Homo sapiens: one gene and its partners. The protein of the gene in region 3 interacts with the protein of the main gene of each other region in a pairwise test. Each region holds a gene or a part of one and is shown on either strand. Other genes may lie near its edges.

Region 1 (3,651 bases), on a different chromosome or scaffold from region 3:
TGATGACTTTTCTGGCCCCACCACAGATGATACCACCTTTATAAGCACAAATGTTGTCTGTGGATTTAATGTAAATGTGAAAAACAAAATTATTTCAAAAACTTTACCTGTGTTTCTTCCTGCAGCTAGAAAGTTTGGGTCAGAGTGAACTGGCTTCAAGACTTACCTTGAATTGTCAAAATTCTTATGTGGAACCTCATAAAATTCGGGACATACCTGTAACTATTATGGATGTAAGCTTCCTTTTAAGTAAAATAGCTGCTTTACTTTTTAAAATGTGTATGTCAAGATCTCCTATAAAACTATTTGATAACTTTCAATGTACCTCTTCAAATGCTGCCTTGGCTTTTGTTTTTACCCTCCAGCTTTCTCAATTCCAAAATAATCTGTTTATTGCTTATCTTGGATTTCTTTCTGGCAGGAATAACACCATTGAAATCAAAATAGGCCGAGCACAGTGGCTTATGCCTGTAATCCCAGCGCTTTGGGAGGCTGAGGCAGGAGGATTGCTTGAGTCCAAGAGTTCAGGACCAGCCTGGGCAACATAGTGAGACCCTGTCTGTATTTATTAAAAAAAAATAAAAATAAAAATGAATCAAAATAAATTTAAACAAGGGAGTCTACCCATTTGATGTATTTTTGCTGTTCTCATCAATAGATATTGCACCATATATTGCACATATATGGGCAGCAAAGAGAAGGTGCTTCACAAGGGTAACAAGGGTAGAGAATCAAGAATTCCATAGTTTAATTACCACAAAAGCTTGCTTATTTTTTTATTGTGGTAAAATGTACATTTAAAATATGCCATTTTAACCATTTTTAAGTGCATAGTTCAGTGGCATTAAGTATATTCACAGTTCGGCAACCATCACCATTTTCACAACATTTTCATCATTCCAAGAAGAAATTGCATACCCATTAAACAATAACTCCTGTTCCCTTTCTTCCCCCGGCCTCTGATAATCAACGGTTTTATTTTCTGTCTATAAAAATTTACCTATTCTAGAACCTCATATAAGTAGAATCATACAACATTTATCCTTTTGTGTGGCCATTTCACTTAGCATAATGTTTCACAAGACTTATCTTGAAATGTTATACATGTGTCAGAATGTCATTTCTTTCTTTTTTTTTTTTTTTTTTTGGAAACAGGGTCTCACTCTGTTCCCCAGGCTGGAGTGCAGTGGTGCAATCTCAGCTCACTGCAACCTCTGCCTCCCGGGCCCAAACAATCCTCCCTCCTCAGCCTCCTTAGTAGCTTGGACCACAGGCTCACACCACTACGTTCGGCTAATTTTTTGTAGAGATGGGGTTTCACCATGTTGCCCATGCTGGACTCAAACTCTGGGACTCAAGCTGTCTGCCTGCCTGGGCCTCCCAAAGTGCTATGACAGGCATGAGCCACCACGCCCAGCCTATTTCTTTTTAAAGCTGAATAATATCTACCAATAAAACCAATGTTGGTTTATACCACATTTTGTTTATCCATTCATCCGTCAGTGGTCACTTGGGTTGTGTTCAGCTTTTGGCAATTGTGAATAGTGCTTCTATGAACATTGGTGTAAAAGTATATGTTTGGGCAGGGCACAGTGGCTCATTCCTGCAATCCCAGCACTTTGGGAGGCTGACTCAAGAGGATTGCTTGAGCCCAGGAATTCGAGACCAGTCTGGGCAATACAGGAGACCCTGTCTCTACTACTAATAAAGAAAATTAGGCCGGGCGCGGTGGCTCACCCCTGTAATCCCAGAACTTTGGGAGGCCAAGGCGGGTGGATCATGAGGTCAAGAGATCGAGACCATCCTGGCCAACGTGGTGAAACCCGTCTCTACTGAAAATACAAAAATTAGCCGGGCATGGTGGCACACACCTGTAGTCCCAGCTATTCGGGAGGCTGAGGCAGGAGAATTGCTTGAATCTGGGCGGTGGAGGTTGCAGTGAGCTGAGATCGCACCACTGCATTCCAGCCTGCCAATAGAGTGAGACTTCGTCTCAAAAAAAAGAAAAAAAAAAAAAGGAAAATTAGCTGGACATGGTGCCACATCCCTGTGATCCCAGCTACTTGGGAGGTTGAGGTGGGAGGATCACCTGAGCCTGGGGTGAGCCATGATCATGCCACTGCGTTCCAGCCTGGGCAACAGAGTGAGAACCTGTCAAAAAATATATGTATATTTGTTTGAGTTCCTGCTTTTAATTTTTTTTTATTTATTTTTAAATTATTTTTTAAAAATAATTTTTTGTTTTTTATTTTTATGGGTACATAGTAGATGTATCCTACTTTTAATTCTTTTGGACATATCGTTTGAAGTAGAATCACACTTTTTGAAGTACCACCATACTGTCTTCCACAGTGGCTATACCATTTCATGTTCCCACCAACAATGCACAAAGATTCCAGTTTCTCTATATCCTGGACCCTTATTTCTGGTTTTTTGGTTGATACTTATCCTAATGGATATGAATTGGTATCTCACTATGGTTTCAATTTACTTAAAAAAAAATCATATGATTATTTTGCCTTATAAATGGATTTGTTCCTAAATTCAAATAATATGGTTTTTTGTTTTTGTTTTTGTTTTTGTTTTTTTGAGACAAAGTCTCACTCAGTTGCCTAGGCTGGAGTGCAGTGGCGCGATCTTGGCTCACTGCAAGCTCCGCCTCCTGGGTTGACGCCATTCTCCTGCCTCAGCCTCCCAAGTAGCTGGGACTACAGGCACCCACCACCACGCCCAGCTAATTTTTTGTATTTTTAGTAGAGGCAGGGTTTCACCATGTTAGCCAGGATGGTCTCGATCTCCTGACCTCATGATCTGCCCGCCTCAGCCTCCCAAAGTGCTGGGATTACAGGTGTGAGCCACCGCACCTGGCCATAATATGGTATTTTTAATAATTGGTTTTTGTTGGGAAATTATTCATTATAAGCGTGTAAACAACTTCTTATCATCCTCTGCCATAATCGCTGCATTCTGACATTTGCCATAACATAGAACAAGCTTTTCAATGGTCCTCACAGGACATTTGCTCTGCCTGCCCTTCTTTCAAAGCTGTGCTCACTGCCTGGGTTCATGGTCACTGAAAACAGCCTGTAAGTTTTAGTTGGAGATGCACTTAAACATACAGATTTGGTATGGTATATTTAGTATACAATTTTTTTTGCTTATTTTACTTTTTGAAAAATTTTGTTGCATGTAAAAACGTAAATGTGTATGGGTATTGAAGGATGTCTAGAATCATATGCTGCAAACTGGTTTCCCCAAGAAAGAATAGCTTGTACTCTACATTTTTTTGGAATTTTTTTCACTGAGCCTAAATGACTTAGTTTATTGCTTTAAATTAATGATAAAAGTAAAAAGTTCTTTTGGGGCTTCGTGATCTTTTTGAAACTTATTGACATTTGCAATGATTGTTCTCTATTAATATTCTGTTAATCTACTTAGCTATATTTGAGGAAAAAGGAAATTCATGGTAGAATTTCCCCCGACCCCAGCCGGGCTTGGTGGCTCACGCCTGTAATCCCAGCACTTTGGGAGGCCGAGGTGGGCAGATCACCTGAGGTCAGGAGTTTGAGACCAGCCTGGCCAACATGGTGAAACCCCATCTCTACTAAAAATGCAAAAATTAGCCAGGCGTGATGGCGCATGCCTGTAGTC
Region 2 (3,651 bases), on a different chromosome or scaffold from region 3:
TGATACATCGGCAGGATACAGAGCTCCCAAGGGCATTTCCCATCCCCTCTCTCCAATTAATTAACCTAATTAACCAGCTTGCTTGTGTATCCAACAGGAACTCCAAACATTTCCTTCAAGAATGGGAAAATCTATGTCCTTTGTTTTCTTTTGAAAATAACTTGAATAAAATCTTACATGAAACAGTCTCCTTCTTTTACCCTGGAGGGATTAACAACCAAGAGCACTTCTAAGGAATTATGCAGATTCCCTCAACTGATAACAAAGAAGTCACATTTTGGAAGCTATAAGCTATAACTCAGTCTCTCACATCTGTGACAAACACAAAACTTTCATTCATTCATTCGTTTGTTCACTCGTTCATGTGTTCACTGAGTTCTCAAAGTCTTTGGAGACCCTAACTGAAGTTATTTATTGGAAATAATGATGCAGCATGTGGAAGAAAAAAGAGTAAATCATTTGCTTTATTTATTTATTTTATTATTATTTTTTTTTTGAAATGGCGTCTCACTCTCTTGCCCAGGCTGGAGTGTAGTGGTGCAATCTCAGCTCACTGAAACCTCCACCTCCTGGGTTCAAGCGACTCTCCTGCCTCAGTCCCCTGAGTAGCTGGGATTACAGGCATGCGCCAACACACCAGGCTAATTTTTGAATTTTTAGTAGAGGCAGAGTTTTGCCATGCCAGCCAGGTTGGTCTCGAACTCCTGACCTCAAGTGATCCAACCCGTGAGCCACCATGCCCGGCCAAATAGTTTGCCTTTAACGCTAAAAAAAAAAAAAAAAAAAAAAAAAGGCTGGTCGCAGTGGCTCATGCCTATAATCCTAGCACTTTGGGAGGCCAAGGTGGGAAGACTGCTTGAGGCCAGGAGTTCAAGACCCAAGCTGGGCAACATGAGACCCCATCTCTACAAAAAATACAAAAATGAGGCCGGGCGCAGTGGCTCACGCCTGTAATCCCAGCACTTTGGGAGGCGGAGGCGGGTGGATCACCTGAGGTCAGGAGTTCGAGACCAGCCTGGTCAATGTGGTGAAACCCCATCTCTACTAAAAATACAAAAATTAGCCAGGTGTGGTGGCACATGCCTGTAGTCCCAGCTACTCGGGAGGCTGAGGCAGGAGAATCGCTTGAACCCGGGAGGCAGAGGCTGCAGTGAGCTGAGATCACGCCACTGCACTCCAGCCTGGGTGGCAGAGCAAGACTCCATCTCAAAAAAAAAAAAAAAAAAAAAAAGAAAAATTAAAAATTAGCTAGGCATGGTGGCACATGCCTGTAGTCCCCAGCTACTAGGAAGGCTGAAGCAGGAAGATTGCTTGAGCCCAGGAGGCTGAGGCTTCAGGTGAGCTGTGATGGCACCACTGCACTCCAGCCTGGGCAACAGAACAAGACCCTGTCTCTTGGGGAAAAAAAAAAAAAAAAAAAAAACAAGCTTAAGTTAAAATTTCATTAATTCAAATAGACCATGAAAATTCAGGAGAAATTAGTATGTGTGCATGGACAGGGAAGGGTAATGGAGAAGTGGGCAACTGGTTTTACTCCAAATATTTTTTTTCTTTTTCTTTTTTTTTTTTTTTTGAGATGGAGTCTCACTCTGTTGCCCACGCTGGAGTGCAGTAGCGCGATCTCAGCTCACTGCAAGCTCCACCTCCCAGGTTCACGCCATTCTCCTGCCTCAGCCTCCTGAGTAGCTGCGACTACAGGCGCCGCCACCACGCCTGGCTTTTTTTTTTTTTTTTTTTTTTTTAGTAGAGACGGGGTTTCACCGTGTTAGCCAGGATGGTCTTGATCTCCTGACCTCGTGATCCACCTGCCTTGGCCTCCCAAAGTGCTGGGATTGCAGGCGTGAGCCACCGCGCCTGGCCTTTTTTTTTTTTTTTTTTGAGATGGAGTCTCACTTTGTCGCCCAGGCTGTAGTGCAGTGGCGCGATCTCGGTTCACTGCAAGTTCTGCCTCCTCGGTTCACACCATTCTCCTGCCTCAGCCTCCCGAGTACCTGGGACTACAGGTGCCTGCCACCACGCCTGGCTAATTTTTTGCATTTTGTTTAGTAGAGGCGGGGTTTCACCATGTTAGCCAGGATGGTCTCGATCTCCTGACCTCGTGATCCGCCCACCTCAGCCTCCCAAAGTGCTGGGATTACAGGCGTGAGCCACTGCGCCCAGCCTACTCCAAATATTTTTATGTTTTCCCATCATATCAGTTTTCTATAAATCTCATTTGCTATCACTAATACTTACAGACAGAGGGCCCAAAATTGCATTCCACATTTGCACTTACTAAACTAAGGCCCAAATTGTTTTCCCACAAAAATATGTGTGTGTCTACCATGTGTCTTGGCACTTGGGATACAAGAGTGAATAAAATAGACAGAGTTTAAAGTGTTTTTTTAGGCCAGGCGCGGTGGTCACGCCTGTAATCCCAGCACTTTGGGGGGCTGAGGCGGGCGGATCACGAGGTCAGGAGATTGAGACCATCCTGGCTAACACAGTGAAACCCCATCTCTACTAAAAATACAAAAAATTAGCCGGGCGTGGTGGCGGGCGCCTGTAGTCCCAGCTACTTGGGAGGCTGAGGCAGGAGAATGGCGTGAACCCGGGAGGTGGAGCTTGCAGTGAGCTGAGATCGCACCACTGCACTCCAGCCTGGGTGACAAAGCAAGACTCCATCTCAAAAAAAAGAAAATAAAGTGTTTTTTTAGGATCAGATCTGTCCACCAAGATGATGTTGTCTTACTATGGCACCTTCATCTGAAATCACAACACTGATTATCTCATACGTTTGACACTAAAATTAGAAGTTTACAGCACCCTACTGCTTTTAAATTTCTCTACATGCTGTCCTGGTCATATCCAAATGGCAGGCTAGACATGGGTCTGGAGGCCTCCTTTCCTCTCTCAGGTCTGGAGTGAGGTAGACCATGTCCTTTGTGTTTTCCAATGCAACAGGCTGGGCTGCATGTATAAAAGCCAGGCCAGGCAGGAAGTTGGGAAGGGCTCTGAAAGCTCTGACTCAACACTGGGGAAAGGGTCTTCCCATGTCAGCAGGAAGAGCCAGCAGAGTGTACAAATGTACAAGAGTGAGCACTCTAGCATACTTCCAGGCCCGGTCTGGGAAGTGAACCCAAGAGACCTGGGGCAGACGAACAGACTCAAGGCAGGAACTGCCAGCACAGGGCTGAACCTTCAAAAGCTCCTGGGACAGCCAGGTTTCCCAAGAGGGAAGTCTTTTTTCTGTTTTGTTGGCCAGGCTCACTTCTGTAACTGAATAAGAAAAAACTAGATGGGAGTGGGATAGATGGAGGGCAGGGAAGAAGCCACCAAAAATTTCTCCAAGCAGAAGAAAACCATGCAGAAAATGAGACGGCAGAAGGGCAAAAGAAGCCCAGGGGCCGCCAGGCCTCAGATTAGAAGGCAGGTGCACATAGATGTGTTTTAGCCAGGGGCTCTCCTGAATGACCCACTGACACTTGGAGGGGCAAACGTGTCTTGGAACAAGCTTTGGTGAGTACTGATCATGTTCCAGGACATACAAGTCCTGGGGATGGGACATGTGCAAAGCTCATCTCTGCACTCTCCAGCCATTTACTGTCTAGTAGGAATACAGACACTAAACCAGGCAAACAATAAGGTGACTTCTGTGATGGGGCAGGCACG
Region 3 (3,651 bases):
ACATTCCTGGGCAAAAGCACTGTTGCCTTGACACTTGGGTGGGAGAGGCAGCCCCTCCATTCCCAAACACACCCCCCTCCTCACTGGCATTGCTGAAATATTCAGTTTCACTCCCCATGGCAGGTAGGAGCTATCAGCACCAGCACCTGGAGAAGAGTTGGGCCCCATGAGAAAAGTGGGGCCCTTGAGTCAGGTTCCTCCCAGTGATTCTACCACCAACTGGCCTTCCGACTACCCAGCCCAGCCCAGCCCCAAATGCCTGAGTCAGCGGGGAGGGCTGCAGCCCTCATTCTGCAGAGTGTAAGGCAACCCCCATTGGAAAGCCCAGAAGAAACTGTGGCCCACAGACCACTCTCCAGGGTGCCTCGTGCCTGTGACTTTTTGTGAATTCTCCCTCCTTTAACTTCTCAGTTACTTTCAACTAATTGCTCCTTCCATTCTCTTTGTTCTTTCAATGTGAGTTATTTTTAAGCCCAGAGAGGAACCTTGGAAATTCCCTGGCAGATAATAATTGATTCTCACAACTTTCGTCATCCTTATTTAGAATTTTTGTGGCGCCTGCAGCTATGGCCCAAGAAATGTCCCCAAAGGATGGTTGACCAAGCCCTTCCCAACATCCGTCTTGAAACTGCCTGGTTTCCCACTTGCCATACAGGGATTTCCCTCTCTCTACCCAGTGCACTCCTCCACCCCCAGAAAAGAAAACAACTTCTATCTACCTGGAGGGGGAAGGAAGTAATTGCTATATGGCTAGTGGTCAGGGGCTCCAGAAAGAAATCAGCTGGCTCCTGCAGGGCTTCTGCTGTTCATTCCTGGAAATCTGGAGGGACCTGGAATTCCATGTCTTTCTGGTTCGAAAGAGCTTGGAGCCAGCCAGCCCTGACAATATAGCAATGGCCAAGAATGCCCCAGGCCACTTGGCATTAGTGGGCGTTCTCAGGCTCACCCTTGCTGGGCGGCGGCTCCTTTGCACATGTGGAAAGCCATCCGTAGGTGGGAGGGAAGCCAGGGAGTCCACCTCAAGTGTTCCCTCCTAATTGGGTAGGAAAGACTAACAGGTTCAAAATAAGGAGGTCTTGATATGGAGCTAAATGGCAGATGGAATCAGCTGGGTGAGCCCTGGGAGGGCAGGGAAGAACCCAGATGCCACTGGAGGAAGAGGCACTAAGACTGTCCCTCTGTCCTCCCTTTTCCTTCTTCCTGCACAAGGCCTTGCTTAGTTCTCAGGGTGAGTGATTGCTGGGACTGGCCTCTGTGTGCAGGCAGGCCAAGAACCTTTCTTTCCATTCGACAGATAAGACAACCGAGGCTCCGTGAGGTGCACTCCTACAGCAGAGGGCCTGCCAGGGGCTCCAGGAGTGAGCTAAGCCTGTCAACTAATCACAGCACCTTGCAGCCACCTCCCATCTGTCTCCCATTCGCCTTTAGACACAGCCTCCTTGGCTGATGAACACTCAGGGACAAGGACCGCAGTGACCTGTAGTAATGGAGACAAAGGGCTGAATGGCCACTGAGACCTCGGTGGTGATAACTGCATGAGGTCCAAATTCTTTGCCTGAGAAGGAGCCAAGAGGGCTGCTAAGGGCACTGGAACAGACTTGGAGTTAGGCCTCGTTCCCCAGCAATGGAGACCTAGGCTTCCCTGCTCTGGCCATTCACAAATATTTGTCAGCGGTCGTTGGCTGGGCCAGCCAAAACCAGCTCCTCTCTCTTCTGTATTTGCTGGCGCTGGGTTTCGTCGATACCTTCATTCAGGGGCCAGCTGGCTGCTCCCCACGAAACCTGCGGGTTTGGGGTTTGGCTGGGCCAGGGATGAGCCGCTTTTGCTCCCAGCAACCCGGCAAGGAGGCTGCACTTGGTCTCAGACACATGGACATGTGGGTCCTGGGTTGGGAAACATACTGGACACCCAGTTTTGCAGCCCTGCAAGTAAGAAGGGCAAAAACCCAACTCTCTGCCTCTTTATTTCTGGGGAAGTCTTCTTCGGGTGAGGAAGAACAGCACAGGAGATAAGATTAATATTCCATTTGTGCTACTGGCAACACCTGCTGTTAGGAAAATAATGCTTTTTTTTTTTGGAGAATGGAAATTGTCGGTTTATGCTTTTTCCATCGTTCATTTAGTTTATTCTTTATTCTTTGGGTTCTGAAATCAGATGTCTTGTTTTACTCTAAGACTGCTCTCTTTTATACAAAAAGACAAAAATGTTCTCGGAACACCACAGCTGCATTTTGGGAGGTGGGTGTAGGGAGAATAACTTCAAATTTTGTTTAAAAAAATGGTTTTAACAGCAGTCCAAATGGAGACAAATGTCCCTCTGTTCGTTTTTTATTTCATAATCGTTCCCAACTAGATATTCTGAGTGCCACTGACTTATTATGGTTCTCTCCATGTCGGACATTTTACCACATAATTTGTAGGTCTGCTTAAAAATTTCTGAAAGCAAAATTCCTAGGGCAAGTGGTTTTAAAACTATGCATGGGCTCATATTTCTTGCCTTCAGGAAAAGTGATGACTGCTTATTACCAGCGTAGGCACCTCCACTCCTGCCCACCTACACATGCCCTGAGTGAGCTCTGCCTGCCCTGGCCCAGTCACCTGGGACAACGCAAGGGTTGCGGTGAGGCTCGGAGGCACAGGCACCAACAATTTCTCTGCAGCTCAGGGGCTGCTTAGTCGAGCGATGGCATATAGGACCCAGGAACAAAAGTCGCCACACACACCCACCCCAGTTTGCAGAATGATGGGGAAGCTTAAAAAGGAAAAGTATAAGGGAGGGGAGGTTTTCTTCCCTCATGAGGGAGTCAACCAAGGGACATCATGGTATTGGCTGATGAACACTCAGAGACAAGGATCACAGTGACCTATACTAACGGAGCACCCATGGTGCGCGCAGGGCTGATTCGGATGATGGGTGTCCCCCGCAGGACACTCCTTGCCAGGTCTGTCTGGGGTATGGCAGCCTGCACAGAGCCTGGCACTGTGCCACTCACAGTTGCATGGGCTGGGTGATCTCACCTCTCTGTGTCTCTGTTTCCAGATGTGCCAGTCCCCACCTGAGGGGCAGTTGTAAGGATTACATGAGTCACAGCATGACGGATGAGAAAACCAAGGTCCAGAGAGGTTGCTTTGTCCTTCTAGGGTCGCCCCGCTAGTTAGTGGCAAAGCCCTCACTGGAACTCAGATTTGTGTTTTTGCTGTAACACGCCATATGACTGGATTTAACAATTACTTATTGGAGATCTCAGTGCTCTTTGGAGAACTGGGGGCATCGCTACAAAGCTTAGGCAACACACGGGCCCTGTAATTGCCAGAGCCATCATTATCATGATGGCGGCAACAGCAGCACTGGGCCAGCTACTTCCTGAGCACTCCCTCCTAACAACGCTGAGAGGAGAGGGCCAGCATGCATCAGAAACACTCCTGCCACCGTGGGCGGCCAGCCAAGCTGCAGACTCCCCCACTCCAATAGATTTTGTGGCTCTCTTTGCTCAGAGTTGGGTAGAAAACAATTCAAGATTGAGGTCTTTGCCAGCCTAGGCAAAAGTTCATGTAAGAAGTGTGGTAGCTCACTGCATGGACTAAAAGCTTTAGAAATCAGATGTTTACCTCGCCAAACGATGCTCTGGAATAGATGAAAGGTCTGATTGG

Evidence for each region.
Region 1: the proteins of CTIF (region 3) and SPG21 interact in binary tests that used the Homo sapiens proteins (3 or more experiments, as listed by UniProt).
Region 2: the proteins of CTIF (region 3) and ATPAF2 interact in binary tests that used the Homo sapiens proteins (3 or more experiments, as listed by UniProt).

Annotation. Positions count from the first base shown.
Region 1 is NC_000015.10:64,965,837-64,969,487, reverse strand, and holds part of SPG21 (maspardin), read left to right. Parts: intron 1-125; coding exon 126-233; intron 234-3,651. UniProt on the Homo sapiens protein: May play a role as a negative regulatory factor in CD4-dependent T-cell activation.
Region 2 is NC_000017.11:18,029,113-18,032,763, forward strand, and holds part of ATPAF2 (ATP synthase mitochondrial F1 complex assembly factor 2), read right to left. Parts: intron 1-3,651. UniProt on the Homo sapiens protein: Plays a role in the assembly of the F1 component of the mitochondrial ATP synthase (ATPase).
Region 3 is NC_000018.10:48,752,028-48,755,678, reverse strand, and holds part of CTIF (CBP80/20-dependent translation initiation factor), read right to left. Parts: intron 1-3,651. UniProt on the Homo sapiens protein: Specifically required for the pioneer round of mRNA translation mediated by the cap-binding complex (CBC), that takes place during or right after mRNA export via the nuclear pore complex (NPC).